Linked DNA regions of Homo sapiens: regions 2 and 3 are each reported to be linked to region 1. Evidence: microRNA targets listed by miRTarBase, many of them from high-throughput screens and not tested one by one. Region 1 holds a microRNA gene; each other region holds the end of a gene's coding sequence.

Region 1 (5,073 bases):
GCTTGAACCCAGGAGGCAGAGGTTGTGGTGAGCCAAGATCACGCCATTGTACTCCAGCCTTGGCAACAAGAATGAAACTCCATCAAAAAAAAAAAAAATTGTTGACTCCTCTGGTTATTCCTATTAAGTAAAAATTAGCCTCTCTAAATATTTAATTCAAATTATTCATCATTGTTTAGTTTCCAGTAATGGGGAGGCCTATGAAAAACATTATTATTTCCAGGTGCTGATACATAATAATACATTGTTTCTAGCTAGTTAAAATTCACTCCTTCTGAATCAACTTCTTCAGAAGATAATTTTGCTTCTAAGTGATGAAGACCAGTACTTTAATTGCAATTTGACAAATATTAACATACTTATAAGTTTCTCTGTCTGATGAAAGCCTCATGAGAACCTTCAGTTCTTTTTTCTTTCTTAGACTCTTTATTACATACCACCTCCTAATACCCTTAGTTTATCTCCTAACACCCTTTCAGGGTTTTAAATAAATCACTCTATTTCCATTTTAAAAAGCTTGATATCTAACATGTGATTGATGTTCACGTCTCTGGATTGGGATATGGACTAGCCAACAGCTGCCTCTATATGCATTCTTCTGATTAGTGGCACATCTCAGAAGTATCTACTGTATGTCTTTGTTGCCTTGATCGAAATATAAATTTCCTTAATTTAGAAAACTACCAGATGTAGTGGCTTACGCCTGTAGTCCTAGGTACCCGGAAGGCCGAGGTAGAAGAATTGCTTAAGCTCAGGAGTTCAAGGCTGCAGTGAGCTATGATGGCCCCACTGCGCTCCAGCCTAGGTGACAGAGCCCCATCTCTAAAACACCTAAAGAAAGAAAACAGCCATTCTGTTATCTTTTTTCTATTTATAGGCAACTTCATATTCTTAGAGCAAATATTTAAATAAACCAAACTTAAACGCATACCATTTTAATTCTCTGGTCTGGTTCAGGCTTACTTTTTATTTCCTTCAGCCCCTCGTTCTTCCGGATTAAAAGGGCTGTTGTATCCCTGGTATGTCCCTGTCCAAGAAAGACTACTTTTTAAGAAATAAAAACCACCTCTCCTACCCTAAATTGCATCTTCTCTATCTGTAAGCTCATAGACTGCAAAGATGCTATTCACTCTGCAGCTGTCAGGGTCCCCTTGACCTTGCTCTGTACCTCCAGCCTAGGGCCCTTCTCCTATAACAACCCCCTTCTTGCCCTCACCTCATTCTTTTATTTTTAAAGGGCTGAGACCACTCCCATCTCCAATTAAAAACCGTTCCACCAAATAAAATAAATTTTTTTTCCCTCACAAAATTTCAACAAAATAACCTATCCTGATTGGACAAATGATAAAAGAAGAAAACAAGCATAGAACCTTAGAGGCTCATTTAGCATAGTGACTGAGAATAGGACTTTCAGAAATCAGAACTCCAGCTCTGTCTATAATTTCAGTGTGACCTCCGGACAGTTGTGTCATCTTTGTAAATCTGTGTTCTGTAAAATAGGAGAATAGTGCCATATCATTGGGTTGGAGTGAGGATTAAATGAGATAATTGACATGGAAAGCATTTAGCACTATGCCTGACACATAAGAAGTGCTCTAGTGGTGATAGTACTTGCTACATTTCTTTTTTTTTTAATTGTTACTAGTGATTTCCAGGTCACAAGCCTAAATGTGTTTGCCTGAACATTATATTTTTCATGGATGTTTCTTGAGGATTTGCCCAGGTGAATGACGTGTCCACTGAGTAATCTCAATGTGATGACACATCACAGATAATTCATTCAGAACTTGAGCCAGCACTTTTTGATGGCCATCTCTTTCTTGGTCCTCTGTTTTTTTCCTCTAGCCAACAGTAAGTCAGAAGGATCACCTGTGCTCCCCCATGAGCCTGCGAAGGTGAAACCAGAAGAATCCAGGGACATTACCCGGCCCAGTCGACCAGCTGTGAGTGCTTTTCTCTCCAAGAGTTTTGAACTCTTAATTTACCAGAGAACCCACAGGATTAAGTAGTTGGGGATACACTCATGATGCAAACAAAAATTGTTGAGATTAGTAAGAACGGATGCTAGAAACATCCCGAAGAAAGTCATACCTGATTAGGAAAGAACCGAAGAGATCTTGGATTGACTCCTCTGCCTTTGGCTATTTGCTGATCATTAGCAGTCCTTTAACTATAAAACAGGAAGAGAAACAACTCCTATCATTCCATAATTTCTACTCAGCAACTTTGGCAAAAAGATGTTGAAAGTAGCAGTTAAAGAGACTTGGGTACTTTCTATGAACTTCTCTAATCTCTTCTACTCTTTCCCCATATTATTTTCCACATGAATTAATATTACAGTTTTTCTGCTATTTTTCATGCCTCCAGGACTATATTTTCTGGACCAAACTTTTTAAGCAGGGTCCAACAGGCGTCGTAACAACTTAGCATCCAGCTTCACTGCTGTAACATGATAGACCCCCAGGTAGCCTTAAAGAGGAGTATGGAGGCTAAAATTTGAAAGTTGAAAATTAATTTGGGATGAATTACTATCCATTTTTTCTATTTAAATCTCTTGAGAATCTTTTCTGTAAAATGAACGTGAAGCTTTTTGGTTTACTCTTTTTTAACATCTTAAAGTAACGACGTATACCGAGAGTAATAATGAAGGGATTTGCATCATTCTGGATTGACATTCTCTTCGCCCTTTTGTATTTATCAGTTGCGTACTAACAATTACAATTTTGTGTCTAATCTGCTGCCTTTCTGCTGGCTTTTCCTCCTTCTGTGGATTCTTCTGGATTGGGTTCCTCTCATTTCAGAGCTACAAAAAAGCTATAGATGAGGTTAGTATTACCTTTTCTTGGTCATGCTTTCACAAAATGTAAATATTAAACTTATTTCCTAATGTTGACATTCAGAAAGGTGGCCAATGGGAGCAATCAGCTGGGAGGAGATTTGTAGCAATCTGCTGGGAGGAGTGCCCCTTCAAATGGAAGCCAACTTTAAGACCCTCAAACCTACCCATATAGCTTCAGAGACCTTCCTTCTAAGCTAAAATGTCACTTTTCCAATGTTCCAGTCTGGCTAATGACAAGTATTCATGCTTTATTAATGGCAGTTTCTCCTTCCAGTATCTTCCAATAGCAAACCTGTACTTGCCAGCCTTGCTAGGGAATGGCTCTCAGCAGTTTTACTAACAAGAAAAGAGACATCATTCTAGGACACTCCAAATTTAGAGTGTGTGATTTGTGAACAAGGAGTTAGTAGGTATTGTTAGATTAATTTTGTGGGACATTAACAACAGCATCAGAAGCAACATCAGCTTTAGTTAATGAATCCTGGAAAGTTAAGTGACTTTATTTCCTTGTCTGTGGAGACGTTTTCCATTAGAAAAATATATGGCTTTGTCAGTTGTAGGTAGCTTGCTAAGAAGGATGACTGCCTTACTGCTATTTGTCAGACCTGCATGAATACAGCAGAGTAGAATTTGTTTTTTTAAGATCCAGGCCTTGCAAAGAGTCCTAAATGCATGGAATCTAAAGACTACCATCATGGCTTTAAAGCTGTAGCTCTGCTGAGCACTACTTTTGTGAAATTTAATGGAAAAAGCACTGGCTTTGAGGTCAGCAAGCTGCATTCAAATCTTGGCTCCCCCAGTAAATAACTGGCTGAGACTAGTCTCATAACCTCACTGGGCCAGAGTTTCCTCATCCATAAAATGAGAATAAAAACACCTCCCCATCCCACTTACAAGATTGTTTAGGATCATTTAAGGTAATGTGTGTGAAAGCATTTTATGTGTAACATTGCTGCAGAAAGCCAAGGGTTTGATTAAGGTTTGGGCCAGAGGCATGGAGCTATTTTGGCAGGTAGGAGAAGCATGTTTCCATGTATCTGGTCTTCACCGAAGAGCCTCACTTTTTCAGACTTATGGCCACCTCACCACCCAGAGTGACGAGACAGTTATGATCATAGTTGAAGGATTGTTGCTTATAAAAGAATGAGACTCCGCATGTTTGCGGTGTGTGGATGGCATTTATAGAAAGGGAAGAGGAGAGTGTGTTTTTAATTGCTCTGTGCCGTGGCCTTGCTTGCCCCTCTCTCTCATAATAGTGAGAAGGGCAGGGATTATCACAACTTTTGTCAGTTTTCTCCCAGAACAGGTAAAGAAAGACAGTGAAGTTCTGGTGCTACAGTTGCCAATAAAATGGCTGTGCATGTGCAGAACTCAAGAGGAATTACATGAGTTCAGAAATTGGCTTGGAGGGGCCGTCATTAAGGAAAAGGCTCTCACAGATTTCATCTGATTAACCCAGAATATTTTAGGCTTTGAAAAATTGCTCTACTTTTTTTTGGTGTACTGCACCACACTGGACAGAGATGAGAGGGGGCAATGGAGGTATACGTAATTACAAATAATTGAGGGGGTGTGAGCTGCATACTAAAATCTCTGGAGCCATGTATGGTTGGAAAAGCCCTCCAGGTGACTATCCTGATCTCTTGAGTATCACTGATCCAAACCACTAAAATAAAGCGGTTCTACCTAACCCAGTGGCTCTCAACCACGGCTGATTCCTCCACTCCTCTTCCCTTAGGAGACATTTGGCAAAATCTGGAGACAGTTTTGGTTGTCACCACTTCAGAGTAGCAGGCAGTGGTACTGGCATCTTGTGGATAGAGCAGAGGGGTGCTGCTGCCAAACATCCCGTGGTGCACAGAGAACTCCCTACAATAAAGAATTATCTGGCCCAAAATGTCAACAGGGCCATAATTGAGAAACTTTGAACTACACCTTTCTCCCTTCTCCATTCATAGGTTTTGGTAGGGCTTCCCTCTCAACGACTGTTTTTGCAATTTAGATAACTGGGATTGAAATGAAAAATCTGAAAATCACTTTTGAAATATTGTCGCTTGTTATTGCTAATGATTTAACTTTTTATAAAAATTAATTTGGGGGAGTGTACATTAATGTGACATTGCTTTCTAATGGAATATGAGATTTTGCAGCATAGTCTATTTAATATAGTCTTTGAATATAGTCTTTGAAAATAAATGGGTTTTCTCTGTTGGCACAATTAAATATGTGACACA
Region 2 (5,073 bases), not on the chromosome of region 1:
TTTTATTCTTCACATTTTTATGCTGCCACATATATAGCAACCAGAATGTTTTTTATAATCCTCCAGTAGAGGATTTTTCTAATCATTGACAGAAACAAGGTTTATTCATTTCATTTTTAATAGTACTCTTAAAGTAACCAGGATCTTTTTCTTAAACCAGAAAAAATTAGTCACTTTTAATCTGTTTTCATTGCATGTCAGTGTATTGAGGGGGAAAGTCTGGAAATTTGCTATATTGGGCATGAAGGACATGAGTTTAACATACGCTTCTAATTCCAGATTCTTTTGTGATCGACATTTGATTTCTAACTATCTAAAAATAGTATGTCAAATATGTTTTACTCATATAGCATCATTTTTTAAATTAACTTCTCTAAACTTTCAACCTTGTTTTTAAAAATTGCTATTTAAAAAAAAAAAAAAAACTGTGTGAAACCAAAAATAGCCTGCATGTGTTTTATTTTTAATTCCTTGTGGCTGGGATTGGAGGGGAGGTCACAGTTTGCTTCAACAGTGAAAATACATTGCATGCCAGAAAAGATCCAAGGATAAAAATTAATACCAAGGTTTTAAACTGATTATTAGTATTTTTAATAACTCATATTTAAAATCAATAGGATGTACATATAAACTTATTTTTGTTTTTCTAGGTAGTTGGCAAAAAAGGAGAAAGCCACTAAGGTACAAAAGACACTGGACAACCATATTGCAATCAGATCTACAGCTCCTGGATAATTGCTTGATTCTCGCCAGAGACTGTCAATGTTTCATTCATTGCCATTACCAATAAATCATTGCTTTTGTTCAGATGGTATCACTAGTGTTTCCATTGTAATCTTGACACATGCAATTGTAAATAAAAGTCACCACTTTTGCCAAGCTTAATTTTTGTCTTTCTAAATCAGTATTTTCTCTTTCCATGTATTTGAAAACTGGTTAACTTCTGATTTTAGTAGAGACTTAAGTGTCTGGTAGTATATTGATTGAAAGCCAGTTTCTTTAGAAAAGGAGAAACTGTTCTAGGGAATTAAGAAGTACATGTGTACACATTCATGGCAAGTTATTTTGATAAGTGAACCTGGAACAGCTAACCATGTTAAATTATTACTGCATTTTTATTAAAGGACATTTGTATATCTGAGCTATGGAAATTACTCAAATTATAAATTAGAAGAAATAAACAGGTTTAATGAGATTTAGCTACTCTTACCTAAAACTTAGCTAATGGGTCCACAGATTCTTTCTTGGTATATATCAAGATTTTAATCTCTTCTGGTAAACTTTAAAATTTGAGTCAGCCTTTTTTTTTTTTTTTTTTTTTTTAACTAATAGAAGAATGTGGAAATCAGACAGTTGGGGAAAAAATACAGCATAGTGAATTCAGAAAACAGGAATTGGCCAGGTGTGGTGGCTAATGTCTGTAATCCCAGTACTTTGGGAGGCCAAGGCGGGCGAATCACCAGAGGTCAGGAGTTCGAGTCCAGCTTGGCCAACATGGTGAAACCTCGTCTCTACTAAAAATACAAAAATTAGCCAGGCATGGTGGCGGGTGTCTGTAATCCCAGCTACTTGGGAGGCTGAGACAGAAGAATCGGCTGAACCCGGGAGGCAGAGGTTGCAGTGAGCTGAGATTGCGCCATTGCGCCCCAGCCTGAGCGACAAGAGCAAAACTCCGTCTCCAAAAAAAAAAGGGAATTATTACCCTTAATCAAGTATTTATTACCTGAACTACCAAAACGTGCAGTGTAAATATACAGAGAACATGATTTAAGGTTGAAAATGAGGTGCTCAAATAGAAATGTTTAAAAGGTCTTTCACAAAAGGCTGGTAAAATACCTATTCGTTACCTTTTTTATCTTAAAATTGTAATCTAAAAAGTATTGGTAGTTTTAATTTTAAAATTTCTGAGTATTTTGAAAACTATTTTTAAAGAGTACATAAGACTGTAAAATTGTGATTCAGTTAAACATTTGAGGGCATTCTTGTCTAGGAATATGGTAGAGATACCATTTGCCTTTGTGAGAGCAGTGTGTTTATACTTGTTTATGAAAAAATTCTACAGAAGTTTTAGTGTTGAAAGAGTCCCTTTCTGAAACCCAAGTGTCATTAGATAGTTTAGTTCATTTGTATATGGGCACATTAACTGGTCTGTGATGATCTTAACACTCCTTAAATAGACCATCTCAGATTAATCACATCTGAAATTAAGGATAAGATTAATATGCAGGGTTTTGGTTTACAGTTTTGTACACTTAACCTTTCTGAGTAATTGTTAAAGTGCCTCATCCTAAGTATTGCTGACCTTTTCCTATTTATACTTGATAGTTTGAAAACCCAGTGAAACAAATTTCGTATTTGTAAAGGATTGGACATCAGATTTATATTGTCTATGTGACTCTTCTATAACAATTAGTTGCAGTATGCAAGTATTACATAATTCAAATTGTAAATAGTGAAAAATGAACGTTTATAGGTAACTATAACGTTTCACTTAATGGGAAATCTTACTATTATAAATGTGCATAATTGGCATTTAAAATATCAAACTGAAATGCTGTTTTCTCCTAAAACAGTATATATATATACACACATATGTATATGTAACATTTATATATAACACTGAATTTTCCAGATGAATAAGAGCATTTGAAAAAATGTAACTCTAGTTATTTTAACTGAAGTTATTTATTAGTGCATCTAGAAAACTGGTATTCAGTTTCTTGTTCATTTTGTCGGACATAGCAAAAAAGAATTTCATGATCTCTGTATTTTGATACATTGACATCAGGTGCTTTTGATGAGAAACAACAGTGAAATATCGTGTTCATAATAGAAACGAAAGTCAGGTATTGCAGTAGGAAGTCTTTGTCAGCTTAATGCTGAAGCCAAGAGTAGCACAAGGTACCACATTCTTGTGCCCACGACAGGCTTTTATAATCCTTCTGAGTTCTCTTTGACATCAAGCCCCACGTTGTTCCCCAGTCTCAATATTCTGTTGGAGGCAGCCACGTAACAATTAGAGTTGAAACCTGCCCCACGTTGTTCCCCAGTCTCAATATACTGTTGGAGGCAGCCACGTAACAATTAGAGTTGAAACCTGCCCCACGTTGTTCCCCAGTCTCAATATACTGTTGGAGGCAGCCACATAACAATTAGAGTTGAAACCTGCCCCACGTTGTTCCCCAGTCTCAATATTCTGTTGGAGGCAGCCACGTAACAATTAGAGTTGAAACCTGCCCCACATTGTTCCCCAGTCTCAATATTCTGTTGGAGGCAGCCACGTAACAATTAGAGTTGAAACCTGCCCCACTTTGTTCCCCAGTCTCAATATTCTGTTGGAGGCAGCCACGTAACAATTAGAGTTGAAACCTGCCCCACATTGTTCCCCAGTCTCAATATTCTGTTGGAGGCAGCCACTTAACAATTAGAGTTGAAACCTGTCTGCCATCCTTTGTCTCAATGTTTGAGGATGTATGCAGTGTTTTTGGCAGCGATTATAGGAATGCAGTTGTTTATTTGGCCTCAGCAGTTTATTTATGGCTGCAATTAATATCCCTGATCATGGGCTTTTAAACCTAAAATAGTTCAGATCCTCCCTTGTTCCTCTTAATGTCTAAAAGCTTTGATTCTGTAATAAGAATAAAGTGTTGGAGTTGAATAAATTAGTTACACCCTTTGTAAGCTTTAAAAACATGAAATTTAAGGCTTACTCATGTTGCTTGTATTGATACTCATATAGTTCAATTTAGTAGGTTAATTTTTGTGTTAGGTATATCTCTTCTGGAACTGATAATTTGTAATCTTAGACTATTTTTTTTTTAAGATAAGTAACTTAGAGTAAGAAATCCAGCTGGGAACAGTGGCTCATGCCTGTAATCCCAGCATTTTGGGAGGCCGAGGCGGCTGGATCACTTGAGGTCAGGAGTTTGAGACCAGCCTGGCTAACATGGAGAAACCCTGTCTCTACTAAAAATACAAAAAATTAGCCAGGCATGGTGGCAGGTGCCACACCCAGCTACTTGGGAGGCTGAGGCAGTAGAATCGCTTGAACCCGGGAGGCGGAGGTTGCAGTGAGCCAAGATCGCATGACTGCACACTAGCCCGGGCAACAGAGTGAGACTGTCTCAAAAGAAAAAAAAAAAAAATCCATTCACAGAACTGCTAAAGAAAAACTAGAGGAATATTTTGCTCATTTAGCTTTAAAACTCATTATTAGAGGTGTGTATTTTACAGTTTTGTAAATATAGATTATGCTTTATAATACACATAAAGCAAGTATATATAACATGCATATAGTAAATAAATTTTAAAATATTGACTATTCCCCAGTTAAGCCTATACTTCTTAAGGAAGACTACTGATGTCATTTTAAGCATGTTTCAAAATTCAAGTTTTATTTTTGATCAATAAGGTTTTTTTTTTTTTTTAACATGCTCAGCACTATAGGAATAAGAGGACAGTGGAGATTTGTAGGCTAATAAGATCGCTTTTAAACTTTGTGGTCCATGTAAAATTATTAGTTGGAGAATGTGTAATTAGAGAACTATAAGATAAAGAGATAACCTTTAGAATTTGAATGTACTAAAATTGTACACAGCTTGGAATATTAAAATCTTAAGGATATGCAATGTTAAAACTGCTAGAGTATTTTTCCTTCGTGCTTGCTATGCTTCTCTATGGGAAGAGGAATTTTATTTTGGAATTATTTCTAAGTTGAACAGACCAGAATTAATTGTGAAAACATGATCTGTTGGTTTATAATTGGACACGCATTTGGAGATACTGGCTCATCATACTACCTAGGAGCAAAATCTCTGAAGTTTGAATCCCTGCTCTTCCACTTGTTAGCTGTGTCATCTTGAGCAAGTAACATCCTTCAGAGCTCAAATTTCTTCTTGTGTAAAAATAGGAACATCTATCTCTTAGACTTGTTCTGAAGATGCGCCTTACTTTGTATCTGGAACAAGGATAAGTATCTTCTGTATCCTGCTCTCAGCTGTCACTGCTTTTTAGGCCATCATTACTTGCTTGGCATACTGCAGTGCCTCCTAATTGTCTCTTTGTTTCTGCTCT
Region 3 (5,073 bases), not on the chromosome of region 1:
ACGTGTGAGCGTGTGTGGGTGTGAGCATGAGTGAGTGGTTGCATTGTGTTTAAGCATGAGTGTGAGTGGGTGTGAGAAGGTGCGTTGTGTGAGCACGTGTGTGAGTGGGTGTGGGCGTGATGTGTGAGCATGTGTAAGGAGGTGTGGGTGCGTTATGTGGATGTGAGCATGTGTGTGTACTTGGTGCACTGTGTGGGTGCGAGTGTGTGCGCGTGGGGGGGGTGAGTGCGTGGGTGTGAGTGGGTGTGTGTGAACGCCTGTGTGTGCGCAAGCATGTGTGTGTGTGTGAGTGTGGGTGCGTTGTGTATGCACGCCCGGCGCGGGCTGGGGCAGCCGTTCCCCTGCCCTTCCCGGCCACCCCGTCCCCGGGCCCCTGTGCGTACGCAAGGCGGTGGGGGCGGCTCCCATGTGGGCCCCGGGCCCCCTCCCACCGGGCCCTCCCCCCCGCAGGCAGCAAGAAGAAGATCCGCCTGTACCAGTTCCTGTTGGACCTGCTCCGCAGCGGCGACATGAAGGACAGCATCTGGTGGGTGGACAAGGACAAGGGCACCTTCCAGTTCTCGTCCAAGCACAAGGAGGCGCTGGCGCACCGCTGGGGCATCCAGAAGGGCAACCGCAAGAAGATGACCTACCAGAAGATGGCGCGCGCGCTGCGCAACTACGGCAAGACGGGCGAGGTCAAGAAGGTGAAGAAGAAGCTCACCTACCAGTTCAGCGGCGAAGTGCTGGGCCGCGGGGGCCTGGCCGAGCGGCGCCACCCGCCCCACTGAGCCCGCAGCCCCCGCCGGGCCCCGCCAGGCCTCCCCGCTGGCCATAGCATTAAGCCCTCGCCCGGCCCGGACACAGGGAGGACGCTCCCGGGGCCCAGAGGCAGGACTGTGGCGGGCCGGGCCTCGCCTCACCCGCCCCCTCCCCCCACTCCAGGCCCCCTCCACATCCCGCTTCGCCTCCCTCCAGGACTCCACCCCGGCTCCCGGACGCCAGCTGGGCGTCAGACCCCACCGGGGCAACCTTGCAGAGGACGACCCGGGGTACTGCCTTGGGAGTCTCAAGTCCGTATGTAAATCAGATCTCCCCTCTCACCCCTCCCACCCATTAACCTCCTCCCAAAAAACAAGTAAAGTTATTCTCAATCCATCCTCTTGCAGCACAGAGTCTCTTTTAAAATTTGTTGTGTATCTCTTTTGGCCCCTGTGTGCTGCGACGTCTCTTTTTGTCATTTGTCCATCGGGTGTTTACCGAGGACTGTACCCAATGCTGGACCCTGGGAACATGAGGACCAATGACACAGAGCGCCTGAACAGGAGTTAGAGTTTGGTGGAAAGAACAAGTCCTCAATTGTGATTAGGAGAGCAGATCCTATTTAAAAGCTCTCTACTCCTGATAGTTGTTGTTTTTAAGCCTTGATGAGGTTTGAACTCATGATGATGATGATGATGATGATGATGACCATGACCAGCAACAACATTTGATATTCTGGTCAATTAGTATCTGCCAACCTTGAGATGTGGAGTCTAATATCACTCCATTTTATAGAATGGGAAACTGAGGCTTGTAGAGGTCAAATTATTTCCCCAAGGTCACAGCCGTTGAGTGGCCAAGTTGGATCACACTCCAGGTCTGTCCCGACACGTCAACATGGAGTGGGAGGCCTTGCTTATCTGGAAGAGGATACTCTTCAGCATTCCGAGGACAGGAATTAAGCCCCAAAGCTCCTGTGGGCCGCAAAGGGTTCTCACGAGCTGCACGCCCAGCAGGACTTTAGACCCAAGTGAATCCCTGGTGGGACCCCCAGGTTCTATTTGCTTTCTAGCTCCTAGCCACAGCAGGGGAGAAACAGACCAAGCTGAGCGGAGAAGCCTGTAAGTCCTGTGTTTTCCTCCAGACGGTAGCAAGTAGTGGCAGTAGACAGCCTGGGAGTGAGGGACTTCCCAACGCTGTCAAAGACCTTAGGGAACCCAGATTCTGGGGCCATTATCGTAGGGACAAATACCCGCCCCACACCTCCTCAACCCCAGAGGGCTCACTGCAGCCCAACCCTGCAGCTCCCTAGTCCTACTGCAGGGCCACAAGAGAAGGCAAAATGGTGTTGTGTCTTCATTCTTCTATTTTTATTTTTTTTTTTTTGAGACAGGGTCTTACTTTGTTGCCCAGGCTGGAGTGCAGTGGCACGAACATGGCTCACTGCAGCCCTGACCCCCCGGGCTCAAGTGATTCTCCTGCCTCAGCCTCCCGAGCATCTGGGACTACAGGTGTGCGTCACATGCCTGACTGATTTTTGTATTTTTTGTACAGATGGGGTTTCATCATGTTGCCCAGGCTGGTCTCGAACTCCTGAGCTCAAGTGATCTGCCCGCCTCAGCCTCCCAAAGTGCTGGGATTACAGGTGTGAGCCACTTCGCCCAGCCCATTTTTATTTTTTTATTATTATTCTTTGAGATATTAATAATAAAAAATAATAATAAATAATATTTTTATTATTATTATCACTCTGTCACCCAGGCTGCAGTGCAGTGGTGCGATTTTGGCTCACTGCAGCCCGGAACTCCTTGGACTCAAGCGATCCTCCCACCTCAGCCTCCTGGGTAGCTGATACTACAGGTCCACACCACCACACCTGGCTAATTTGTGTGTGTGTGTGTATTTATTTTATTTTTTATTTTTTTAGTAGAGATGGGGTTTTGCCATGTTGCCCAGGCTGGTCTCAAACTCCTGGCCTCAAATAATCTGCCTGCCTCGGCCTCCCAAAGTGCTGGGATTACAGATGAGCCACCACACCCGGCCTAACATTTTTAAAATTATAAACCCACTTCATACGTGTGACAATCCTGTGCAGTGGGTGCTGCTTTCACCCACCCCGCTTTACAGATGAGGAAACCAGGTGCTTTGAGATTAAAGAGATGGCAGTGCTAGGACTCAGAGACACCCTGGCCCCAGGGTCTGTGGACATGACCACTGCCTGAACTGCCTGCGAGGATGCTCCTGACCCGTTAGCCTTAGGGTTATGGGCCCAGCATGCTCCCACCGTACAATTTGCTGTAAGAGGGACACACACGGGGCTTGGAGTACCCCTGAGGCTTGCCAAAGGTTGGGGAGGCAGAATTGTGCTGCGGGGGGTGAGGGGGGAAGGGACAGGAGCCAGCCAGGGACAATGTGGCCCTACCTTCTCCCTGGAGAGACCTCAGCTCTCTGGAATTCATCTATATTTAGCAGGTGGCTGGACAGGAGGCAGATAAGCAGAGCCTGGGGAGGGGGGAGGTCCCCATATATAGTGGGAAGGACAGGACCCCACTCAGTCCCTCTTTGGGTGACCTGTGCCTGCTTCGTGCCTGGTGTGACGTCTCTCAGGATGCCTGAGCCGGGGAAGAAGCCAGGTAGCTTTAGGACTGGGGTTGGGTCTAAGTGTGGGAGCAGGGGGGTGTCTACAATTGGGGAGCAGGGCTAGGAGGGAGTTCTTGAGGGGGTTGACGAGGACGTGGCCTCTGAGCCCCAGGACAGGGGCAGCCAGTCCTCCAGGGTCCTTTTTTGATTCTCGGTTTCTTTTTCCCATCCCTCTGATGAGAGGTGAAGGTAAACCCAAGGTCAGGGACGCAGAGAGGGGACACAGCCAAGACAGGAAGCACCCGGGGTCAACCCATTCTGAGAATGCAAAGGGACCCCTTCCCTGTCCCATTGCCTTCACCTTCCACAGCAAGGTTCCCCGCGGACAGAGCCCACGTTTAGTATGGAGCTGAGCCAGGCTCACGGCATGCCTTCAGACCAGTCTCTACCCACTATGGGTCTCAGTCTCCCAACCTGGGGTGCCGGGGGTGGTGGTGGCATTGGGTTGGTTCCTCCTGGCTGTGACATTATCTGCTTCATGAGCCTGTACGGTGTGGCCCCCATGTTGAGGGTGACACAGCCCCTCTTCTCTGAGAGAGGACAGTCAGGAGCCCCTGAACCCAGGCCAAGGGCAGGGAAAATCACAGCCCAGGGACCTGGGCCTGGGCTGTGCCCTTATGAAGGTTGTCCAGGGCAGAGATCCAGGTCCCCATCCCCCAGCGCCCTCCCAGGCCAGCTTTATCTCAGTTGCTGATACCCAGCCTGAGGTCCTTGGAGGACAAATTTGGCCACATTCCAAGTAGGCAGACTTCCCCGCCCCCTGCCAAGGGCCCGAAATGGTTGGGGGAAAGGGAGCTGGGTTCATCACGGGTGTCTCCAAGCAGGGAAAGTGGACACATGCAGAAAAAGTCTTGTTGGGAGGTCAGGACCACAGCCCTGGCTCTCCCGACTGCTAGCTGTGTGATCTTGGAGGAGCCGCTTAGCTTCTCTGAGCCTCAGTGTCCTCCTCTGAGAAATGAACAGAATAACTGCAACTACCTCAGAGAACTGGTAGAGTATTACGTGAGGGGATGCATAGAAAGTGCTAGCACAGTATTTACTGAGAGGGGCTGCAGGGGCGGGGTGCACGCTCCAACCAGGGGCCGCTGTAGCCTCCACCTGGCCCTTCAGTCTCAGCTTTTAGCAAGAAGCCACGGTCAGTGGAAGTGGCCGCAGGCAGCCCTGCCGTGTTCGAGGCCGAGACAGAGCGGGCAGGAGTGAAGGTGCGCTGGCAGCGCGGAGGCAGTGACATCAGCGCCAGCAACAAGTACGGCCTGGCCACAGAGGGCACACGGCATACGCTGACAGTGCGGGAAGTGGGCCCTGCCGACCAGGGATCTTACGCAGTCATTGCTGGCTCCTCCAAGGTCAAGTTCGACCTCAAGGTCATAGAGGCAGGTAAGATCCTGATCAGCCTTCCCTGAGGTTTGGGCTGCTGGGGGAGGGGCAGCCCAGCGACTCTCCATCCATCCAGGGAACAGGAGGTGCTTTCACACTTTCTTGCCTTTGCTGTGGCTGTGCCCCCCGCCAGGAACGCCCTTTCCCCCTTTTCTGCACATGACCTCTCTGAGTACCCCCATGTGCCATCCTGGCTTGTTCCAGCCATGGGGTAGGTGGGAGAGATGAACAAGACACAACCCCACTCTCCCCCTGCAGACCTCCCTGGGGAGATGACCCTGCACAGACGGCCGGGAAGCCCCAGGAGCTGTGGAT

The links. Region 1 holds the annotated microRNA hsa-miR-569 (AGUUAAUGAAUCCUGGAAAGU, at 3,309-3,329, shown strand). A microRNA usually pairs through its seed, bases 2 to 8, with sites in the 3' UTR of a target mRNA and lowers its output. Matches are read on the target gene's strand: a 7mer-m8 pairs with bases 2 to 8, a 7mer-A1 pairs with bases 2 to 7 and ends in A, and an 8mer does both.
Region 2: the mRNA of TXNL1 is a reported target of hsa-miR-569. Seed matches in the 3' UTR shown: 7mer-m8 at 2,138-2,144.
Region 3: the mRNA of SPI1 is a reported target of hsa-miR-569. Seed matches in the 3' UTR shown: 7mer-m8 at 1,094-1,100.

What each region holds. Positions count from the first base shown.
Region 1 is chr3:171,104,935-171,110,007 of GRCh38, reverse strand. MIR569 (microRNA 569) reads left to right here and starts at 3,249; the gene lies at 3,249-3,344. It overlaps TNIK (TRAF2 and NCK interacting kinase), which reads left to right. Exons shown (of 33, transcript NM_015028.4): 20 at 1,846-1,943; 21 at 2,802-2,825. It overlaps LOC105374216 (a long non-coding RNA gene), which reads right to left. Exons shown (of 5, transcript XR_007096163.1): 2 at 2,633-2,814; 3 at 2,092-2,170.
Region 2 is chr18:56,598,634-56,603,706 of GRCh38, reverse strand. It overlaps TXNL1 (thioredoxin like 1), which reads left to right. Exons shown (of 8, transcript NM_004786.3): 8 at 651-5,073. The coding sequence ends at 680. Among named protein-coding and RNA genes, the nearest start is that of TXNL1, 37 kb to the left of the region's middle.
Region 3 is chr11:47,350,924-47,355,996 of GRCh38, reverse strand. SPI1 (Spi-1 proto-oncogene) reads left to right here. Exons shown (of 5, transcript NM_003120.3): 5 at 451-1,137. The coding sequence ends at 770. It overlaps MYBPC3 (myosin binding protein C3), which reads left to right and starts at 3,295. Exons shown (of 35, transcript NM_000256.3): 1 at 3,295-3,374; 2 at 4,492-4,758. The coding sequence starts at 3,350. RefSeq lists enhancers at 3,671-4,651, 4,652-5,073.